Linked DNA regions of Homo sapiens: region 2 is linked to region 1. Evidence: fine-mapped expression QTL. Tissue or cell type: nasal epithelium. Region 1 holds a variant in brackets; the other region holds the start of a gene. All regions are shown on one strand. Distances are from middle to middle.

Evidence for each region. PIP is the estimated chance that this variant, and not a neighbour inherited with it, causes the effect.
Region 2: it holds the start of NFRKB, and the variant in region 1 is fine-mapped to the expression of NFRKB in nasal epithelium (TOPMed, PIP above 0.99).

Annotation. Positions count from the first base shown.
Region 1 is chr11:129,839,129-129,849,757 of GRCh38, forward strand. The region is part of intron 1 of TMEM45B (transmembrane protein 45B); the gene reads left to right. Among named protein-coding and RNA genes, the nearest start is that of TMEM45B, 29 kb to the left of the region's middle. The variant C/T (reference allele first, on the strand shown) is at 6,479.
Region 2 is chr11:129,892,079-129,902,615 of GRCh38, forward strand. NFRKB (nuclear factor related to kappaB binding protein) reads right to left here and starts at 3,500. Exons shown (of 27, transcript NM_001143835.2): 1 at 3,418-3,500; 2 at 2,281-2,360; 3 at 637-792. The coding sequence starts at 771. PRDM10 (PR/SET domain 10) reads right to left here. Exons shown (of 21, transcript NM_199437.2): 21 at 7,633-10,438. The coding sequence ends at 10,235. RefSeq lists a silencer at 3,217-3,656.

The sequences.
Region 1 (10,629 bases):
GGAAGGAGAGAGGGAGGGAGGGAAGGATCCAATGATCTCCCTAGATATGAAATAAAAAGGAACAGTTGCCCAAACCTCCAGTCTTCTTGGTGGCCAGCTTGGTTGCTATTTTTAATACTAGGCCATAGCAGCAGATCAGCTGGGGATTTAATAGGGAGATTCTGGAAATGAGAGTCATGGAAGTGTTGAGATGAGGTCTTCACACATCCCTGGCCGAGTGGAAAAGCTATGCATCTATAGGGAAGACCTGAGACAGCCCAGCAGAAAGTGAAAGGCAAAGTTACTACCTGTCCAAAACATTCAATCCTCCCCTCACACTCCCATTCTATCTCATGTGAAATTTAAAAAAAAGGAAATATATTGAAATAAGAAAGTTGGGGAATTTGCCTTTGTGAAAGCACTTATTTTTTTCCTTTGGAGACAGGGTCTCACTGTGTCACCCAGCGGTGGAGTGACACGGAGTGTCAGCGGTGCAATCACGGCTCACTGCAGCCTCAACCTCACAGGCTCAAGCAATCCTCCCATCTCAGCCTCCCGAGTAGCTTGGACTACAGGCGTGCCCTTCCATGCCCAGGTAATTTATTTTTAGTAGAGACGGGTCTCACTCTGTTGCCCAGGCTGATCTTGAACACCTGGGCTCAAGCAATCTTCCCGCCTCAGGCTTCCAAAGTGCTGGGATTACAGGTGTGAGCCACTGCACCTGACCTAAAAGCACTATCTGATATTTGTTTTCCTATTTGTAAGTTTGTCCTTAGATTGAAAGGTTTTGTTGTATATTGCCCACACCAGTTGTGTATATTAGGAAACACATTCCTTAAGTACTTTTTTATTTAACATGTATTTTATTTAAATGTTTTTAATGCTAAACCACAGCAGGGGCTTAGCCTATATTTGGAAAATGGGTTATCCAAATTATTTAGAAGTCCAAATTTTTATTGTTCTACTTGAAGTTATTTATTACCTTATTCCTCCTGTAACTAAAACTAACTCATCCTCCATCTCCTCCACGTGTTCCATAATGTAGCTAATCTAATGAACTAATCCATTAATTTGTTATTGGAAGAAATATAGCCCATCCCCATCAAATCAAAGTACTCAGTCTTCTATGAATCATACATAAGTTTAAATAAATTTCTACAGACATGCTGCAGGCCCTGCTGTCCACTGGTGTGAATTTTAGACGAGGTAAAAGGGAAGGGTGGGTCTTGACAAGCTGGTATCAAGTACATAGAGGCAGACAAGGACTCTGCCTTTATTTCAGGTACTGCTTCTGAGAAAAATGAGGAAGTGCAGGGAGGAGGGAAGCCGGTTAGTCACTGTGCAGTTTTGACCTACATTTGCAAAGCTGGTTTTTCTGCACCTTTGCCTAGGAAAATGAAGTATAATAAGCTTGATATTGAAAGGGACCTGTGTTAAACATTAAACAAACATGTAAATTTTTTATGTTCAAAGGAGGGTTTAAAAAGAAAGCGGGCTGGGCACAGTGGCTCACGTCTGTAATCCCAGCATTTTGGGAGGCTGAGGCAGGTGGATCACTTGAGGTCAGGAGTTCTATATCAGCCTGACCAACATGGTGAAACCCTGTCTCTACTAAAAATACAAAAAAATTAGCTGGGCGTGGTGGTGCACGCCTGTAATCCCAGCTACTTGGGAGACTGAGGCAGGAGAATCGCTTGGAGGCAGAGGTTGCAGTGAGCCAAGATTGCACCATTGCACTCCAGCCTGGGCAACAAGAGCGAAACTCCATCTCAAAAAATAATAACGAGGAGAAGGCCTTCCAGTTATGGCAGCACAAAGAGGCAGGCAATTTCTTTCTGTAAAAAAAAAAAAAAAAAAAAAAAAGCAACAAACAACCAAAAAATATATAAAACTAGACAAAATTGTTTATCAAAACCAAGCATTTCAGGGAACTGGAAATTGACAAAATGCAGGCAAAAAATTGAGCAGCATTTATTCTTGAAAAACTACTAGATCTTCAGGCAAGTAGGAGATGGTGGCTTTTTTTGCCTGTGGCTGCTCCCATCACCCCCCAGCTCAGCCAATGACTTTTAAGTAAGATGGGGCTGGCCATGAAAACTGCCACACAAACAGATTCAATTCAGAGCAGTGGCTGGGGGGTTGAAAATCCTTGGCTTTGCTGGCTTAACATGGGAATGAACACTTGGAAATGAGCAGGACAAATCCACAGCTTCGCTAGCTTGAGGTTGCAGCCCCACTTGGGGCAAGCAGCAGGCCAACCAGGAATTTAACAGGGGGATTCTGGAAATGAGAATCAGAGAAGTATTGAAGTGAGCTCTTCACGCATCCCTGGCTGACTGAAAAAACTATGCATATATGGAGAAGACCTGAGAGAGCCCAGCAAGGGAGATAAGGGACTTGAAAACTGGCCTTCTCCAACCCCCACACAGAGGGACTGACAGGGGTTGGAAGTGTAATGGGCTTGAAGTTTTCTTTTGTTTTTTTGTTTTTTTTTTTTTTTTGGAGACAAGAGTCTCACTCTGTCGCCCGCCCAGGCTGGAGTGCAGTGACGTGATCTCAGCTCACTGCAACTTCTACCTCCTGGGTTCAAGTGATTCTCCTGCCTCAGCCTCCCAAGTTGCTGAGATTACAGGCACCCACTACCACGCCCGGCTAATTTTTTGTATTTTTAGTAGAGATGGGGTTTCGCCATGTTTGCCAGGCTAGTCTTGAACTCCTGACCTCAAGTGATCCACCCGCCTCGGCCTCCCAAAGTGCTGGGATTACAGGCATGAGCCACTGCGCCCGGCCTCAGAGAATTAAAGAAAACTGTTCAAGGAATTAAAAGAAAATATGATTTAAATGACTCGACAAATAGGGAATCTAAATAGAGAAATACAAACTGTAAAAAGAATTAAATGGAAATTCTGGAGTTGGAAGGTACAATTTCGAATTCACTAGATGGGCTCAATAGCAGATTTTGAGATAGTGGAAGAACTAGTGAACATGAAAATAGACCAATAGAAATGATCCAATTCGAAAAACAGAAAGAAAAATGAAGACAAATGAACAGACCTTCAGACACACATGGGATGATGCTCAATGTCCCCACATACGTGTAATGGAAGCCGCAGAAAGGGAGAGAGAAAAAAATAAAGAAGTAATAGCTGAAAGCTTCCCAGGTTTGATGAAAGATATTGAATTGCAGATTTTTTTTAAAACTCAACCAACACTGAATTTAAAAAACACAAAGAGAACCACACAGGAAGGACAAAGCCAGAAGCATCACACTTCCTGTGTTCAAATTATATTATAAAGCTATAGCAATCAAAACAATATAGTACTGGCATAAAAACACACATAGAGCAATGGAACAGAATTGAAAGCACAGAAATAAACCCACTCATATAAGGTTAACTAATCTTCTACAAGGTGTCAAGAACAAGAATGAGGAAAGAATAGTATCTTCAATAAATGGTGCTGGAAAAACTGGATATCCACATGCAAAAAAAAATAAGGAAATTGGATCTTTATCTTCCACCATATACAAAAATCAACTAAAGGTGGATGAAAGATTTAAATGTAAGACCTAAAATGGTAAAACTCCTAGAAGAAAATATGCAGGGAAAGATACATGACATTGGTGCTAGCGTTGATTTCTTTTTTGATATGACAACAAAAGCACAGGCAACAAAAGCAAAAGTAAAGGAGTAGGATTGCATCAAAGTAAAAAGCTTTTGCATAGCAAAGAAAACCATGAAGAGAGTAAAGATACCCATAGAATGGGAGAAAATATTTGCAAACCATATATGCAATAAGGAGCTAAATCCAAAATATACAAGAAACTCTTACTACTCAATAGTAAAAAACAAATAACCCTATTAAAAAGTAGGCAACAGGCTGAGTGCAGTGGTGCAATCTCGGCTCACTGTAACCTCCGCCTCTCAGGTTCAAGCGATTCTTCTGCCTCAGCCTCCCGAGTGGCTGGAACTACAGGCATGCGCCACCACGGCTGGCTAATTTTTTGTATTTTTGGTAGAGATGGAGTTTTGCCATGTTGGCCAGGCTGGTCTTGAATTCCTCACCTCAGGTGATCCGCCTGCCTCAGTCAGCCTCCCAAAGTGCTGGGATTACAGGCATGAGCCACTGTGCCCAGCCTATTTTAGACTTTTTGATTGCCCTATGATCTCAGTTCTCAAATGAGTTTAGGAAAAGTTATGATTTTGTAGTTTATCTGCTATCGTTGCTGTTAGGGTGTAATACTCATCCCAGCTTTCCGCATCCTGGATTCTTTGTGTTTTAATAATTGTTTACTATAATCTATTTCATATGTTCTAATGTATACAATGCCAATTGATGTTTGCTTTTATGTATTTGCAGTTTTGATTTCTTCTTTGACCCAAAGTTATTTAGTGACTTAAAAAATGTTTAAGGTGATTGAGATTTTTGTAAAAGAAAATATTTCTGTTGTTATAGCATTGTAGTCAAAGAATGTAGGCAATAAATTTTCTGCTTTGAGAAAAAAAAAAAAAAGTGGGCAAAGGACCTGCATAGACATTTCTCTAAAGAAGACATACAATGGCCAAGTGGTTTATGAAAAGATGCTCAACATCACTAATCGTCAGGGAAATGTAAATCAAAGTCACAATAAGATATTACCTTATACCTGTTGGGATGGCTGTTGCCAAAAAATCAAAACAAAAAACAAAACAAGATTGGTGTGGATGTGGATAAAGGGAACCTTTACATACTGTTGGTGGGAATGTGAATTGGTACATCTATTATGGAAAACAGTGTGGAGGTTTCTCAAAAAATTAAAAATAGAGCTACCCTATGATCCAGCAATTTCACTTCTGTGTATATATCGAAAGCAAATAAACTCCCTATCTTGAAAAGATATCTGCCCTCCCATGGTCACTGCAGCTTTGTTTGCAATAGCCAAGATATGGAAACAATCTAAGTGTTCACTGATTGATGAATGGACAAAAAAAATGTGGTGTATATATATATAGAATGGGATATTATTCAGCCTTAAAAAAGAAGGAAATCCTGCTATTTGCAACAACATGGATGAACCTTGAAGACCTTATACTAAGGGAAATAAGCCAGACACAGAAAAAATGCTGTGTGATCTCACTTATATGTGGAATCTAAAATAATCAAACTGGATATAAACAGAATAGAATACCTGTTACCAGGGTTCTGGAGCAGTGGGGGAAATGGGGAGATATTGGTCAAAGGGTACAAACTTGCAGTTATGAGTAAATTTTGGAGACCTAATGTACAGGAGGGTGACTATCATTAATAATAATATACTGGCCAGGCACAGTGGCTTATGTCTGTAATCGCAGCACCTTGGGAGTTTGAGGCGAGAGAATAGCCTGAACCCAAACATTCAAGACCAGCCTGGGCAACATAGCGAGACGTTGTCTCTACAAAAAATTTTTTAAATTGGCCAGGCGTGGTGGCCTGCACCTGTAGTCCTAACTACTTATGAGGCTGAGGCGGAGGATCACTTGAGCCCAAGAAGTTCAGGGCTGCAGTGAACTATGATTATGCCACTGCACTCCACCCTCGGTGATAGGGCGAGACCCTGTCTCTAAAAATAATAGTAATAATAATAAACCTTATATTTGACATTTGCTAAGAGAGTAGATCTTAAGGATTCTCATTACAAAGGAAAGGAAAGGGTACCAGGTAAGGTGATAACTCTGTTAATTAGCTTGATCATACCAATCATTTCACAATGTATACATATATCAAATCATCATGTTATATACCCTGAGTATATACAATTTTTATTTGTCAATTATACCGCAATAAAGCTGAAAAAATATTAAAGGACATCCTTCAGGTCGAAAGAAAATGAGGTTTTAGAGTTATTAAAATGGACAGAAAGAAATGAAGAACGCTGGAAATGGTAAATATGTGATTAAATATCAAAGAATATATATATATTCATGCTTTGAAAAATGTAAAATTGCTTCAAGAAATAATTGCCACACCATTAGTTTATAACCTAGACTTTATATATTCTTAAATCTTAAAAACTTTATAACAAGCCCAAACATAAATATGATATGTACATATATGTGTACACACACACGCACACGTCTCTGCCTGTTTATTAGAGTGGCTTATTTAGTCCATTCATATATATTAATGGCTTATTTTGTGTGTGTGTATGTGTGTGTGTGTGTGTGTGTGTGTGTATGCATGAAGGAAGGGGTAGGAAATAGAGCTATTATAGATGTGTGTGTGTGTGTGTGTGTGTGTGTGTGTATGCATGAAGGAAGGGGTAGGAAATAGAGCTATTATATATTGGAACAAAGTCACTATATTTTATCAGAATTAAGTTACTATTAAAATAGACCATGGTAACTTCAAGATGCATACTATAATCCCTAGACTAGAGCATGCAGTAGGAAAAAAATATATATAGCTTAAAATATGAAAAAAGTAATTAAAATGGTATACTAAAATTACTTGTTAGACATAAATGACAGCAGGAAATGAGGCA[C/T]GGAGGAACAAAAAAATGCATGAGTGACAGAAAACAAATAGCAAAATGACAACTATAAATATAACCACACCAATAATTACATTAATATGAATGGACTAAATAAACCGTCCCAATAAAAAGGCAGAGATTGTCAACTATGCAAATTCTCAAGGAATTTCCCTTTTATGCATAGTTTTGGGAATGCTAGACTTATATTAATGGAAATAAGCCAAGAAAGAAAAATAAATGGCATCCAAGAAACAGGGGATCCAAAACAAGGAAAAGCCTCTTCTGGAAGCTGCAGCAAAAGGTAGGGTGGGTGGAAAACAAGAAAAAGGCAAAGGGAATTTGTAAGATGGTGCAGAATGCCCCAGGAGGACAGACAGCCAGTTCAATTTTAAAGAGAATATTCTCAAAACAGGTCTCTAGGAATAAAACAGAAATAAGTTATCTGAGGTTAAAATGTCTAGAATTTAATTTGGTCAACATTTGACAGATCTTTTAGCCCTTTGGAGGAAAAACATAGTGATCAGTATTTGGGAAGATAAACAAGTAAAAAAACAATGCAATTATTAACCCCAGAATAAAACAAAAGTGTTAGGCCAGGTGCGGTGGCTCACGCCTGTAATCCCAGCATGTTGGGAGGTCAAGGCAGGTGGATCACCTGAGGTCAAGAATTCAAGACCAGCCTGGTCAACATGGTGAAACCCTGTCTCTACTAAAAATACAAAAATTAGCCAGGCGTGGTGGCACCATCCTTCATTCCAGCTACTCAGGAGGCTGAGGCAGGAGAATCGCTTGAACACATAGGTGGAAGTTGCAGTGAGCAGAGATCATGCCACTGCACTCCAGCCTGGGCGACAGAGCAAGACTCTTTCTCAAAAAAAAAAAAAAGTGTTAGAGAAAACATAACCCATAATACACTACTTGGATCTGCATTCATTCATTCCACAAGTATTTACTGAGTGCTCACTCTGTGTCTGGCCCTGCGGTAAGCTGTGGACTAACCACAATAAGCAAATAGATCAAATCTCTGCTTTCCAGAGGCCCACATTTTAGTGGATGATGACAGATGCTTAAAAAAAAATCAGTCTGCAATATCAGATGGTGATTCATACTTTACAGAAAAGTTACAAGTCTACATAGATTGAAAAGTGGGGCAGGCCTCTATTGTACATGCAGGAGTCACGGAATAAAGTGGCATTTGAACAGAGACCTGAGTAAAGTGAAGGAGACAACTGTTGGCTGCCTGTGGGAACACTGTTCTAGAAGCCACAGACAGTGCAATGTCCTGAAGCAGGAATGGAGTGTTCTCAGCCATTTAAGGGAATGGAAGGGATCCAGTGTGGCAGGGGATGAGTGCTGGGAGAAATCAAAGAGATGGCTCAGGATCGTATATGGCCTTATTGGCCCTGGTAAGGACTTTGGATTTACAGAGCCATGATAATGAAACTAATGATTTCAACAAACGAGTATAATGCAACTGCTATGAAAATAGCAGGGTGGGGAAGAGGGAGAGGCTGTGAGAGAGCTCCAGGAAGTTGGTAGGTGATGCCTGACAATGATGGATTAACAAATGACCACATGCACAAAGCATTAGGTTGGTGCAAAAGTAATTGTGGTTTTTGCCATTACGTTTGCACCCACCCATTAACTACAATGGTGGAGGTAAATACCGGAGGAAACAGCTGAAAGGGTTGAAAGTGGCTTTGCTGGGGGTGAGGAGGGACAGAACATGAGGCTGTTGCTTTTCACTATAAGTCTTTCATACGAGTTGATTTTCTGAAAACTGTAAGCATTTTTTTAAAAGCTTATGAAGTTATTTTTTTTTATTTTTTTTTATTGATCATTCTTGGGTGTTTCTCGCAGAGGGGGATTTGGCAGGGTCACAGGACAATAGTGGAGGGAAGGTCAGCAGATAAACAAGTGAACAAAGGTCTCTGGTTTTCCTAGGCAGAGTGTGTGTGTCCCTGGGTACTTGAGATTAGGGAGTGGTGATGACTCTTAACGAGCATGCTGCCTTCAAGCATCTGTTTAACAAAGCACATCTTGCACCGCCCTTAATCCATTTAACCCTGAGTGGACACAGCACATGTTTCAGAGAGCACAGGGTTGGGGGTAAGGTCATAGATCAACAGGATCCCAAGGCACAATTTTTCTTAGTACAGAACAAAATGAAAAGTCTCCCATGTCTACTTCTTTCTACACAGACACAGCAACCATCCGATTTCTCAATCTTTTCCCCACCTTTCCCCCTTTTCTATTCCACAAAACCGCCATTGTCATCATGGCCCGTTCTCAATGAGCTGTTGGGTACACCTCCCAGATGGGGTGGTGGTGGCCGGGCAGAGGGGCTCCTCACTTCCCAGTAGGGGCGGCCGGGCAGAGACGCTCCTCACTTCCTAGATGGGATGGCGGCCGGGCAGAGACGCTCCTCACTTTCCAGACTGGGCAGCCAGGCAGAGGGGCTCCTCACATCCCAGACGATGGGCGGCCAGGCAGAGACACTCCTCACTTCCCAGACGGGGTGGCGGCCGGGCAGAGGCTGCAATCTCGGCACTTTGGGAGGCCAAGGCAGGCAGCTGGGAGGTGGAGGTTGTAGCCGAGATCACGCCACTGCACTCCGGCCTGGGCACCATTGAGCACTGAGTGAACGAGACTCCGTCTGCAATCCCGGCACCTCGGGAGGCCGAGGCTGGCGGATCACTCGCGGTTAGGAGCTGGAGACCAGCCCGGCCAACACAGCGAAACCCCGTCTCCACCAAAAAAATACGAAAACCCGTCAGGCGTGGCGGCGCGGGCCTGCAATCCCAGGCACTCGGCAGGCTGAGGCAGGAGAATCAGGCAGGGAGGTTGCAGTGAGCCGAGATGGCAGCAGCACAGTCCAGCTTCGGCTCGGCATGAAAGGGAGACCGTGGAAAGAGAGGGAGAGGGAGAGGGAGAGGGCTTATGAAGTTCTTGATGATGGGTGGGACCCTCATCTGTCAATGTGTAAGATGTGAAACAGCCCTGACAATGTAGCTGGTGCTAGAGGGACGGGCCTGTGTCCAGGGTTGGAATATGCTGTGCAGACCAGGAATGCTTTACATTCCGGGGTGGTCTTTTCTAGATCACTGTCTCAGTCTGCTTGTGCTGCTACAACAAAATACCACAGACTGGGTAACTTATAAAGAACAAATTTATTTCTCACAGTTCTGAAGGTTTGGAGGTCCAATATCAAGGCACTGGTATGTGGTGTCTGTTGAAGGCTGTAGCCTCACATGGCAGAAAGGGCAAAAAAGGGAAGCAACTCCCTCCATTCAGCCCTTTATAAGGGTGCTTAATCCCATCCACAAGGGAGGAACCTTCATGGCTTAATCAGCTCTTAAAGGCCCCACATCTAATACTATCACACCGGCAACACCTGAATTTTGGAGGGGACCCATTCACACCATAGCATTCCAATCCTGGCCCCCCAGAATTCACGTACTTCTCACAAACAAAATACATTCATTCCACCACAATTGCCCTCAAAAGCCTTAAATCATTCCAACATGAACTTTAAAATCTAAGTCCAGAATCTTATCTAAGTCAGGTGTGAGAGAGACTCATTCACTTTGAGATAAATTTCATCCTGAGGCAAATTTCTCTCCAGCTGTGAGCCTGTGAATTCAAATGAGTTGCGTACTTTGATTCAAATACAATGGCGTGACAGGCACAGGACAGATGTTTCTAGTCCAAAAGGGAGAAACAGGAAGGAAGAAAGGAGTAACAACAGGTCTCAAGTGAGTCCAAAACTCAACATTAGATCTTAGGCTTGAGAATAATATTATCTGACTCCATATCTCACCTTCTGAACACACTGGGGTGGGTGTTGGGCCCCCAAGGCTCCAGGTGATACCACCTCCAAGGCTTCCCTAAGTATTGGCCTACTGGGGGCTCTCTGCAGTGGCTCCACCCCGGTGACAAATCTCTGCTCGGGCCCTGAGGTCAAAGAAATCCTTTCCATCGAGGTGGAGGCGGCCGTGCTCCCACAGCTCATACAGTATGCATACCTACAGAGTCAGCACCACATGGATGCCACCAAGATTTATAACTTGCGCCCTCTGGAGCAGTGGCCCAACCTGCACCTGGTCCTGCTTGAGCCACAGCTAGGGTGACGGAGGAATGCTCTGCTGGAAATGTGGGGAGCA
Region 2 (10,537 bases), 53 kb after region 1:
ATTGGGGGAACAGGTGGTGTCTGGTTACATGGGTGAGTTCTTTAGTGGTTATTTCTGAGATTTTGGTGCGCCTATCACCCAAGCAGTGTACACTGCACCCAATGTGTATTCTTTTACCCCTCACCCGACTCCCATCCTTCCCCCCAAGTCCCCAGAGTCCATTATCATTCTTATGCCTTTGTGTCCTCAAAGCTTGGCTGCCACTTATAAGTGAGAATGATGTTTGGTTTTCCATTCCCAAGTTCCTTCACTTAGAATAATGACCTCCAATTCCATCCAGTTTGCTGCAAATGCCATTATTTCATTCCTTTTTATGGCTGAGTAGTATTCCATGGTTAAAATACACAACCATTTTTAATGGATGAAAATTATCTTGTTAAAAATAGGGCTTAAATCATGTTATCAAGTTATTCTGGCATGTTATTAAACATGCGGAACGTAGCTTGTTTTCTTCCTTAATCGGATATTAAATAGACTCTAAACTTAAAAAAAAGATAAGAGATCAGGCTGCCTGCAATGTAGAAAATGAACAAAAGGGAGCACAAAAGACTGGAAATGTAGAGTGGAAAAGGTTTCCCACAGCTGTTACAAGGAAGCTGACAGAGAGGAAAAGGTCACAACCGTGTTACTACTCACATCCTCCAGAAGGTCCTCGGGCAGACTAACTCTGGTGCCTCCCAGGAGGCAATCCTCCATGATGCGCGTGCCATGGCCATCTCCACACGGACCAAGTTCCAGAGGATCTGTCAGCATATGGTCTAAGGAATCCATTGTTTCTTCTCCACAGGTACTCTGGACAAAGACATGCATCTTGAGACAGAAAGGCAGAAATTCCAGGGATCTAGTTGATGCTAACACTCCTCCAGGAAAACATTCAACCTCCAGCCAGTTCTTACACCTTATCCTTGCACCCTAATTACAGCTAAACAGCTCTCCTCCCTCCCTTTCACCACAGCATTCCCACTGGAATTTTCAAGTCTTACCTGGAAGAGCTCTTTTCTCAGAATGCTCCTACAGTAACTCCTAAATTCATAAATTTCATATGCCTTCATTTTACAGATGAGTAAAATGAGACTGAGAATAAATGATAAACAGATCACAATCTATAATTTACACTTCCCAGACCAATAATCACTCTCCCACAATGTAATTTCTGTAACAACTGTTTTTTAGCAATTAATTCTTTGTTGTTGGCTGGGTGCAGTAACTCACACCTACAATCTCAGTACTTTGGGAGGTCCAGGCGGGCAGTCCCCTTGAATCCATGAGTTTGAGACCAGCCTAGCGAACATGGCAAAACCCCTTCTCTACAAAAAAAAAAAAAAAAAAAAATCAGCCAGGCGTGGTGGCGCACGCCTGTAGTCCCAGCTACTCAGAAGGCTGAGGTGGGAGGATCGCTTGAACACGAGATGCAGAGGGTACAATAAGCCGTGATCACGCTACTGCACTCCAGCCTGGGCAACAGAGACCCTGTCTCAAAAAAAAAAAAAAAGGAAAGGAAAAAGAGAAAGAATATTGTTTGTTGTTCTTTCACAAAAGAAAATTTGCTGAAAATCAACATACACTAGTAAAATGCAAATGCTAACAGTCACTTTATGAGGGCCTATTAAAAGCCAGGCCTTTCACATATCTCATTTAATTCCTACAACTGTGCAAAGTAAGGTCATGGGTTATTACATCGGAATTAAAACTGAAAATCAGAGTAGGTCAGTAACTTGCCCAACCCCAGAGGCAGTACTGAAACTCAGGTCTACCTGCCTGCAAACCCATGTGCTTAATGCTACACACAATACCTCTTGTATAACCTCGCAACATTTAAATAATAAAAACGAACCTTACTGATATGACTTTATTAGTCCATATAAATTCCTGAGGTTCCACACACCTGACCATAACCACCAGTAAAGTCAATGGCCAATCTGCCTTTAGTTGGTCCATTTGATCCGTATAATCATGTAAATTAATGCTACTTTTCTCCTTCGTGTAATAACAGAACACTGCTGATCACCTTCAGAAAACTACATACCACAACATTTTCAGACTGATGGCTGGGATTAGGGGTCAAGTTGATAGCACAGGACTGCACAATGCTAACAGGACCACAGGGAGCTTAAACTCAATCACTCTACCAACATTTACTAAATCCATCCTTTCCAGCTCCTATTCCTACAAAGTGGGCTAAAAAGCATACTAAAATGAAAAGAAAAAAGGATGTTAACAGTCAAAACACCAGAATTCCATATTCCACATTCCACAAACACCACATTCCACAAATCTTACCACGCCAGGTGTCAATTTCCTTATTTGAGGAAGGGAAGCTGGACCAGGTCCTCCCTCCCGTTATTTCCAATTCTGGAATCCTGCAATGAATAATCTCTAGATGAGTGACAGTGTGAATTACGTAATACAGGTACTTTTCTTTTCCAAAATTCTCCAATGATAAAGAACAGTTCTAGAATAACTATATGTAAAATGAAGCATGTTCCACTAAATTATTTCAAGCTCCCTTGAAGAGATTTCAGATCCATGTAAAGATATAGCAGAAACTTAAGCGTTGAGTCAAGTCACGTGGGTGGTCCCCAAGCAACTGTGCCCCCTCATCACCCTTCAGCACATGGTGAAATGACATCCTCATCATGCCTATGCCTAAATAAGTGAAGCGGGTGAGACAGCACATAGCATGTGAGTTTAACAAAACTTCAAAATAGCACCAAAAAAAAATTGCAGAAGCAACCTGATGCTCAGAATAAAACCTTCTTAACAGAACTGGCATAGAACAGACTATCAACTGCAAAGTCAGTGTCCTACCTGCCTCTTAGGAGGTCTCTATACAACTTGCTCACAAGTTTCTTCAGTGACGGTGCGTGTCTAGCTAAAGTTAATCTAGTCCACTGACAACCTTTGCACTGCCACTATTCTGAACAGAATCTCAAAATACCAAAACCAGGCAGCTGCCAGGGAGTTGGACCCCGGAAGCCAAGGATTTCCAGATCTTCGGGCGTTCTGAACCTCTTCACTAGACCACGAAGGCCTCTCGGCCTCTCATCACTGGCTTTCAGCACCTGGTCTAACTTTCCCCGCTGGACCCTCCCCAACGCAGAAGCTAAACCCTCGGGTCCTTCCAGAGCAACCGCCGGCTCCAAAGCCCTCAACTCTGCAGCAAATTCCCCTCCGGTGCCAGCCCGGCTGGCCCAAGGCCCGGGTCCAATCCTCAGAACTGCACGGCTCGGCCCCGCCCCTCCCCCACGCCGTGCCTAACCCTAACCCCCAGCCTCACGCGTCGCACCGCTCCCCACGCCCCGCTCCCGCTCCCCACGCCCACACGGGCAGCGACCTCGCGGACCCAGCCGCCCGCTCCCGCTCCCTCCACTCCCAGGAGACACTTCAACCCTTTCGCCGCCCCTTGCCCGCCCTCACCTGAACCGCGGGCGCCGGCCCCCTAACCCGCAGCCCTTCTCCGGCCGCGGGCTCCCAGACGCACTCGCTCCCGCAAGGAGTCTGGGTGCGCGCACGCTCTGGGCCTGCGCGGCGGAAGGGGCGGGGCAGCGCGGGGCGGGGCCTGGAGGGTGCCGGGGCGGGGCCACAGCGGGCGGGTCCTGGAGCGGCTCGGGAGAGCGGAGGGTCGGCGAGGGTGCCTGCGCGCGGCTGGGCCTGGGGATGCAGGTTCCAGCCTGCTTGCGCGTCTCACCTGATTTAGGAGCTTCCAGAGGCCCCAGACAGTGCCTGTCTTTGCCTGACCGCGAATCAAAGTTCCATAGCCCGTGAGCGAAGGCACGTCTATTAGCTGACGTTTGCAGAGAGCATACCCTGCCCCAGGCCCTATGCTAAGCACTTTCTACCCACCGTCTTTGTGCTGCAGCCCTGTGAGCTATGCACTATTAGTGCCCATTTTACAGTTGAGGACATGAGTAGAACGCGACCTCAGCCTGTGCTTCCGAGTTCCTTCATTCCTCCTTCCCGTCCCCGGGCCCTCGATGTCCAGAAAGAATGTAAACACATCGAAGGATCACATTTTAAAGTTAAACTCCATCATTTTCCTCTTCTTAGATATGAAGGCCCCTTTCCTGTTATTCACTGGGTTTTGCTTAGTACGGCTTCACACTACTTATTCCAGGTACTCCCAGCAGTGGCGCAGAGACCATCCTCAGTTCTGTGTGTGGATGGGACCAGAGAAGCCGGCCGGCCGAGCTAATGTTCTTCCCTTCCTGGAAGAGAGTAGTTTCCAAACAACCCGATCTCTGTTCCTCTACTGGCTCCACATATGCTCTAAGTTCCTGTTACACTGTTGAGAGGCTCTTGAATTAGAAACTATCGAGTATAAATGGCAGTGGAATATCACTCTATAGTTGTCACCGATATTTCCCTTACCTTGAGATTGTGACAAGACCAGAAAGAGAAAAAGAGTAAAAACAATGTAAACTATAATTTTTGATAGACTTTGTTTTTTTAAAGTGGTTTAAAGTTAACAAAATTGAGCAGAAAGATATTTTCCAAATACTCCCCGCCCCACCTCCCCACATGCATCGCCTTCCCTTTATCAACATCCTCTACCAGAGTGGTACATTTCTTAGAACTGATGAACCCGGCCCGGCCTGGTGGCTCACGCCTGTAATCCCAACACTTTGGGAGGCCGAGGCGGGCGGATCCCGAGATCAGGAGATCGAGACCATCCTGGCCAACATGGTGAAACCGCGTCTCTACTAAAAATACAAAAATTCGCCGGTCGTGGTGGCGGGCACCTGTAGTCCCAGCTACTCGGGAGCTGAGGCAGGAGAATTGCTTGAACCGGGGAGGCGGAGGTTGCAGTGAGCCGAGATTGAGCCATTGCACTCCAGCCTGTCGACAGAGCGAGACAGAGCGAGACTCCATCTCAAACAAAAGAACTGATGAACCTACATTGATACATCATTACCCACCATCACAGTATAATGCAGAGTAATTTCACTGTCTTAAAAATCATCTGTGCTCTGCATATTCATCTCTCCCTCTCCTCTACCCCTGGCAACCGCTGATCTTTTTGTCTCCATAGTTTTGCCTTTTTCCAGAGTGTCATCTAGTTGGAATTACATAGTATGTAGCCGTTTCAGATTGGCTTCCTTCCCGTAGTAACAGGCATTGAAGTTTCCTCCATGTCTTTTCATGGCTTGATAGCTCCTATTTCTTTTTAGTGCTGAATAATATTCCATTGTGTCGATATATCACAGTTTTATCTATTCGCTTACTGAAAGATATCTTCATTGTTTCCAGGTTTTGGCAATTATGAATCAAGCAATTATGAATCAAACAACCCAGAAATCCAACCACCCACTCCAGGCATCTTTGCATGAACGTATCAAAAACACCTCAGTCCCAATGCCCAGGATCTTCCCCTTTGAGAGGCTGAGATGGGTGGATCACTTGAGCCCAGGAATTGGAGACCAGCCTGGGCAATATGGTGAAACCCCATCTCTACTAAAATAAATACAAAAAATTAGCCAGGTGTGGTGGCACGTGCCTGTAGTCCCAGCTACTCAGGAGACTGAGGTGGGAGAATCGCTTGAGCCAGGGAGATCGAAGCTGCCGTGAGCTGTGATTGCACCACTGCACTCCAGCCTGGGCAACAGAGTGAAACCCTGTCTCAAAAAAGTAAAAAGAAAAATAAAACAACAAAGAATAAGTAAGACTTTTCCTTTACCTTCATTATTAAAGGTAATAATGATGTTCTTTCTTTATATAGATCTGAGGTTCTGACTTTTATCATTTTTCTTCTCTCTGAAAAACTTAACATTCTCTCCAAGGCAGGTCTACTGGCAACAAATCCCCTTTGCTTTTGGGGGATAATTTCATGGGCTACAGCATTCTAGGTTAGACACTGCTTTTTTCTCTCAACACCTTAAACATTTCATTCCACTCGCTCCTTGTGTGCACAGTTTCTGAAGAAAAGTCATTTTTTGTTCATTTGTTTTTTGGTTTTGAAGGATTTTTTTGCATTTATCCTGTGTGTCCTCTGAGCTTCCCGGATCTGTGGTTTCATCTTCCATATTGATTTGGGGAAATAATCAATCATTATTGCTTCAAATATTTCTTCTGTTCCTTTCTCTGTCTTCTGCTAGTATTCCCATGAGGCATAGTTATACCTTTTTTTCATCATCTCACAGTTTTTGGATATTGTTTGTCTTTCAGTTATAGAGGTTTCTATTGAGATATCCTTAAGCTCAGCAATTCTTTCCTAAGATGTGTCTAGTCTACCATTTAGCCTCTCACAGCTACTCTTCATGTTTTTTTTTTTTTTTTTTTTTTTTTTGAGGTGGAGTCTTGCACTGTGACCCAGGCTGGAGTGCAGAGGCGCAATCTCAGCTCTCTGCAACCTCCACCACCCAGGTTCAAGCGATTCTCCCACTTCAGCCTCCTGAGTAGCTGGGATTACAGGCACCCACCACCACGCCTGGCTAATTTTTGTATTTTTAGTAGAAGCAGGGTTACACCGTGTTGGCCAGGCTGGTCTTGAACTCCTGACCTCAAATGATCCACCCACTTCAGCCTCCCAAAGTGCTGGGTTTACAGGCATGAGCTGCCGTGCCCAGCCTACTCTTCATTTTTTATCTCTAGCATTTTAGCTCATTCTTAGGATTTCCATCTCTCTCCTTACATTGTTTGTTATTGCTTGTTGTCTACTTTCTCTAGTAGAGCCCTTTTCATATTAATCACAGTTGTTTCAAATTCCCAGTCTGTGAATTCCAACATCTCGGCCATATCTAATTCTGGGTCTGATGTTTGCTCTCTTTCTTCAAACTTGTGTCTTTTGCCTCTTAGTATGCCTTGTAATGTTTTTCTTGATAGCTGGTCATGATGTGCCAGGTAGAGAGAGCTTCTGTAAGTAGGCCTTTAGCAATGTGGTGGTAAGGTGTTGGGGTTGGGGAAGCATTCTGTATTCCTAAAGGAGGCCTCAGTCTTCTGGTGAGCCTGTGCCTCTGGACTGTGAACTTCACGAATGCTACGCAGTTATCCCCTCTTAGATGAGGGACAATGGCTGGAATGGGCTGGGGCTGGCTATTTCCTTTCCTCCAGGTGACTGAGGTTCTGCTATAACTTCAGCAGGTTCGGTGCTTGTTATAATAGAAAGATCAGAAAGCTCTGGAGTATTTCAAAATGGTTCCTTCTCCCCTTCCTCTGCTGGAAGCATGAGGGAATTTTTCTCCAAATTTCACTGTGAGAACCTAGTCAAGCTCCTGGGGATAAAACTCACAAAAGTGTGGGTCTCCCTTGACCCCCCCTCCAGTGACTGAGTTCCCTGGAGTTTTTAACCTCTCAGATTTCTCCACGCTGAGCCTGCAGCAATTCATCAAATATAGTTCAAGTTTTCCTACCCTGGCGCTGGTTCTCATAGAGGTTATTGATCGTGGATTTTTTTCTCACGGGTTTCTGTTCAATAAGCTATGATTCTCTGTATTTGCCTGTTTGTCTTTCCAATTTTGGGGACAGCAGTTTGTCCTGTGGGCTCAACTTTCTGATGGATCTAAGGAGAGATGTTGATCTTTCCATTTGCTCAGCTTCTTACTTATTGCTAGGATGGAGGGACAACTTCCAAGCTTCCTGTATGCCACGCTGGAAACCAAAAGTTGCAATTCTTCAAAGAAAAAAAAATAGCTCTTGTAGCTTCACACATACAAACATGTTTATTAAAAAATATATTTATTAATTTTTACACCTGCTGCATAGCACAAGACTATTAACACTATAACTCACTGAATGTACAATAAATGTTCACATTTAAATAACAGGATAGGGTCAACATTTTCAACCAGTGGGTCAGCTTTAGCATCTCATGAAGTGCTTTTTAGACCTAGATATCTTAAGAGTTTTTTTGAAAGGATACTTCCAAGTCAGAAAACAAGAAGATCAAAACAATAGGTTTTTCCAGAATAACAGGAATTTTACATGATGAAATGTCTATTTCTGTCGGTACAAATCAATGATAAAAACAAAATCTACATCCAACCTACTCCAAAATACTCACACTGGACTGAATGAAGTCTACAGTGTCAATGTGTCTTGAGAGAGGCCACAATATCCACACTGGCTACATACATGTTTTCCAAATTAAGTTTTCTGATGGCTCATCATTTGCCATCTCTTCAAATCCAGGTCCTTTTAAAAATCTATGACCTTGGAATGAATGTGCAGAATACCTGATCTGAAAGCCATGCGATTTGGCTCGACTGCCATCCGCATCTCTGGCTGATAATATACAAATTAGTTTTAGAGTCTTTATTTCACTTAAGGACCAAAGAAGAAGAAGAAGAAGAAGAAGAAGAAGACAACTTAGAAGGGAAAGCAACAAAGAGGTCCTTCCACAATATTTTCCTCTGTGTATTTTAAAACTTAAAACAACTGCCATAAAATGAACATTCCATTCAGTGATTCTTTTCAGTTTTCCAATAAGTTATTCCTGAAGGGAGGGGAGATACCTTATGGTTCAAATTAAAAAGAACGTAACAGGGCCAAATTTAAGTTATAAAAGCTAAAACTGAACCTTTAGAAAATTCCACTAGTCTTCTCCTAGAAAGTCTTTCTAGACCGGACACTAGGATATTTGTAATCATTACACTGTGGGACTTAGGGAACCCGAACCTGTGTTTTGCAATGCAGGGTCAATATTTTCTGTTGAATATCTTTGTCACAAAGAGAGTCCATTTTCAGTTTCCATATGTTTATGAAGTAATTTTCTCAAGTTCTCTTAGTACTCAAACATTGGGGAACAACTACATGAACGCAGTCTCAGAAATAAAGTGCGAAATCTACACATCAATAAAGTTCTTTTAACAGAATTGTTCACTTTTCAGAAAATTGTCTTTATCATAAAGAAGCTACTCTACTTAATTTATAGAACCAGTTTTTACCCAGAAATGTAAATTAATTAACTTCATTTGAAATGAAGTAAGGTCTTTCTGTTCTGGAGTAATAAATTCTACTATGCAATAATTATTCTGAAAATGTGTTAGCATGTCACAAAAAGTTAAAATATATACTGATTTTTTAATGCCCAACTAATAGTATATTCATAAAGACTGGATTTCTTCCAGATCCCTTATAACTACCTGAATTATTAGAAGTGGCCATCACATTTTAATTTTTTCCCTAAGTGTGAAGTTGACCGTCTTATTAAAAGGTCTAGATGAGTCACAATATGTTTAAAGTTAAAAATGTTAATAAATAAGAAATGCCACCTTCCTGTCCAACTTTAAAGAATGTTCATTTTAAGACAGCATTAAAAGTAATAAAATACACTGAACATGTCAGCAAGAGTTAAATGTACACTTGGTAAGAACAAGGAATATATCCTTTACCAATGAATGATAAATGGATCCTGCAAGGCAGAACAAAATTTCAATACTTTCTCTCTCTCTCTCTCAATAGTTTTGGAAATTTTTCTTGGTACCAATATCTCCTTCTTACCACCACCACAACCACAGAATGGGAGGCAAAGCTTTAATGTAGGGGTTTAGATTCTGCTGACATCAAGCAGCCTTTTCTCTTTCAGGTTGTCCACCTTTGTGAAATAATGAAGAACTATCAGAACATGAGCTTCTGACCTAATCCACTGAGGACCAGCATCTGTGGAAAGCACTACCAACAGCCCAACAATAGTTTTCTAAAATAGGGAAGTTAAAAAAAATCAGCAAGAAAAATTTAGATGACAGTTTTTGCTTCAGAATATCACTGTCAAACTTTTGTTTCATCATTTTAATTTTGTTATTCAGCAGGCTCCCTTTGTTAAATTACTGAAAACTAAAACAAGATAAAGCAGTTCAGACCTAATGCACACCCACAAAATGCCCCTTCTCCTTTGGTGCCATGGCTTGGAATAAGAAGTCCAGTAACCATGAACTTGGCACATCCTGTCTCCACCTTTGGTATGAACACAATATGCCACTTAATATTTCCACAAAGGAAAAGTAAGGCTCGTCAGTATGTTAAAAGACCAGCTCAAGAGCAAGGCAAATTCTCTCCACCTCGAAATCTACTTTCCCCTGAAAGATCTCTGTTCTGTGGCAAAAACCGAGGGTTTGAAGAGTCAATTTGATAAAGATGACCTTGGCAAAATAAACCCCAGTGTATGGATGAGAGACAAAACTGTGGTTTCCGAACTCTTGAGTGAATAATAAATCTTACAAAAGAGCTCTACGTGTCAGAGCTTTCAGACTTATGAGAACAGACATGAGGTGGGTGCTGGATTCAAGCTCCAGGGTGGAAGTCATGGTTTGGTGATATGCACTTCGCTGCTTCCGTTCCCGTTGGTGGTGGTGGTGATGATGTACTGTGTGGTCTGCTGTTGGCTGTTGGTCTGGGGGTCCAGGGAGTCACTGTGTGCAGGTGGCTCGACCTGGACTCCACCAGAGAGGGCAGAAGTTTGCTTTTCTTCCAATTCTGATTGACTTTCTGATAACACATAATGACCCTAGAGGAAGAAGAAAAGGATCCTTAAAAACTTGGGGCCTTAAAGGGAGGGTGAAGCTACTGGGGAAGGAGGGAGATGTGAAGAAATGTCACAAGGGAC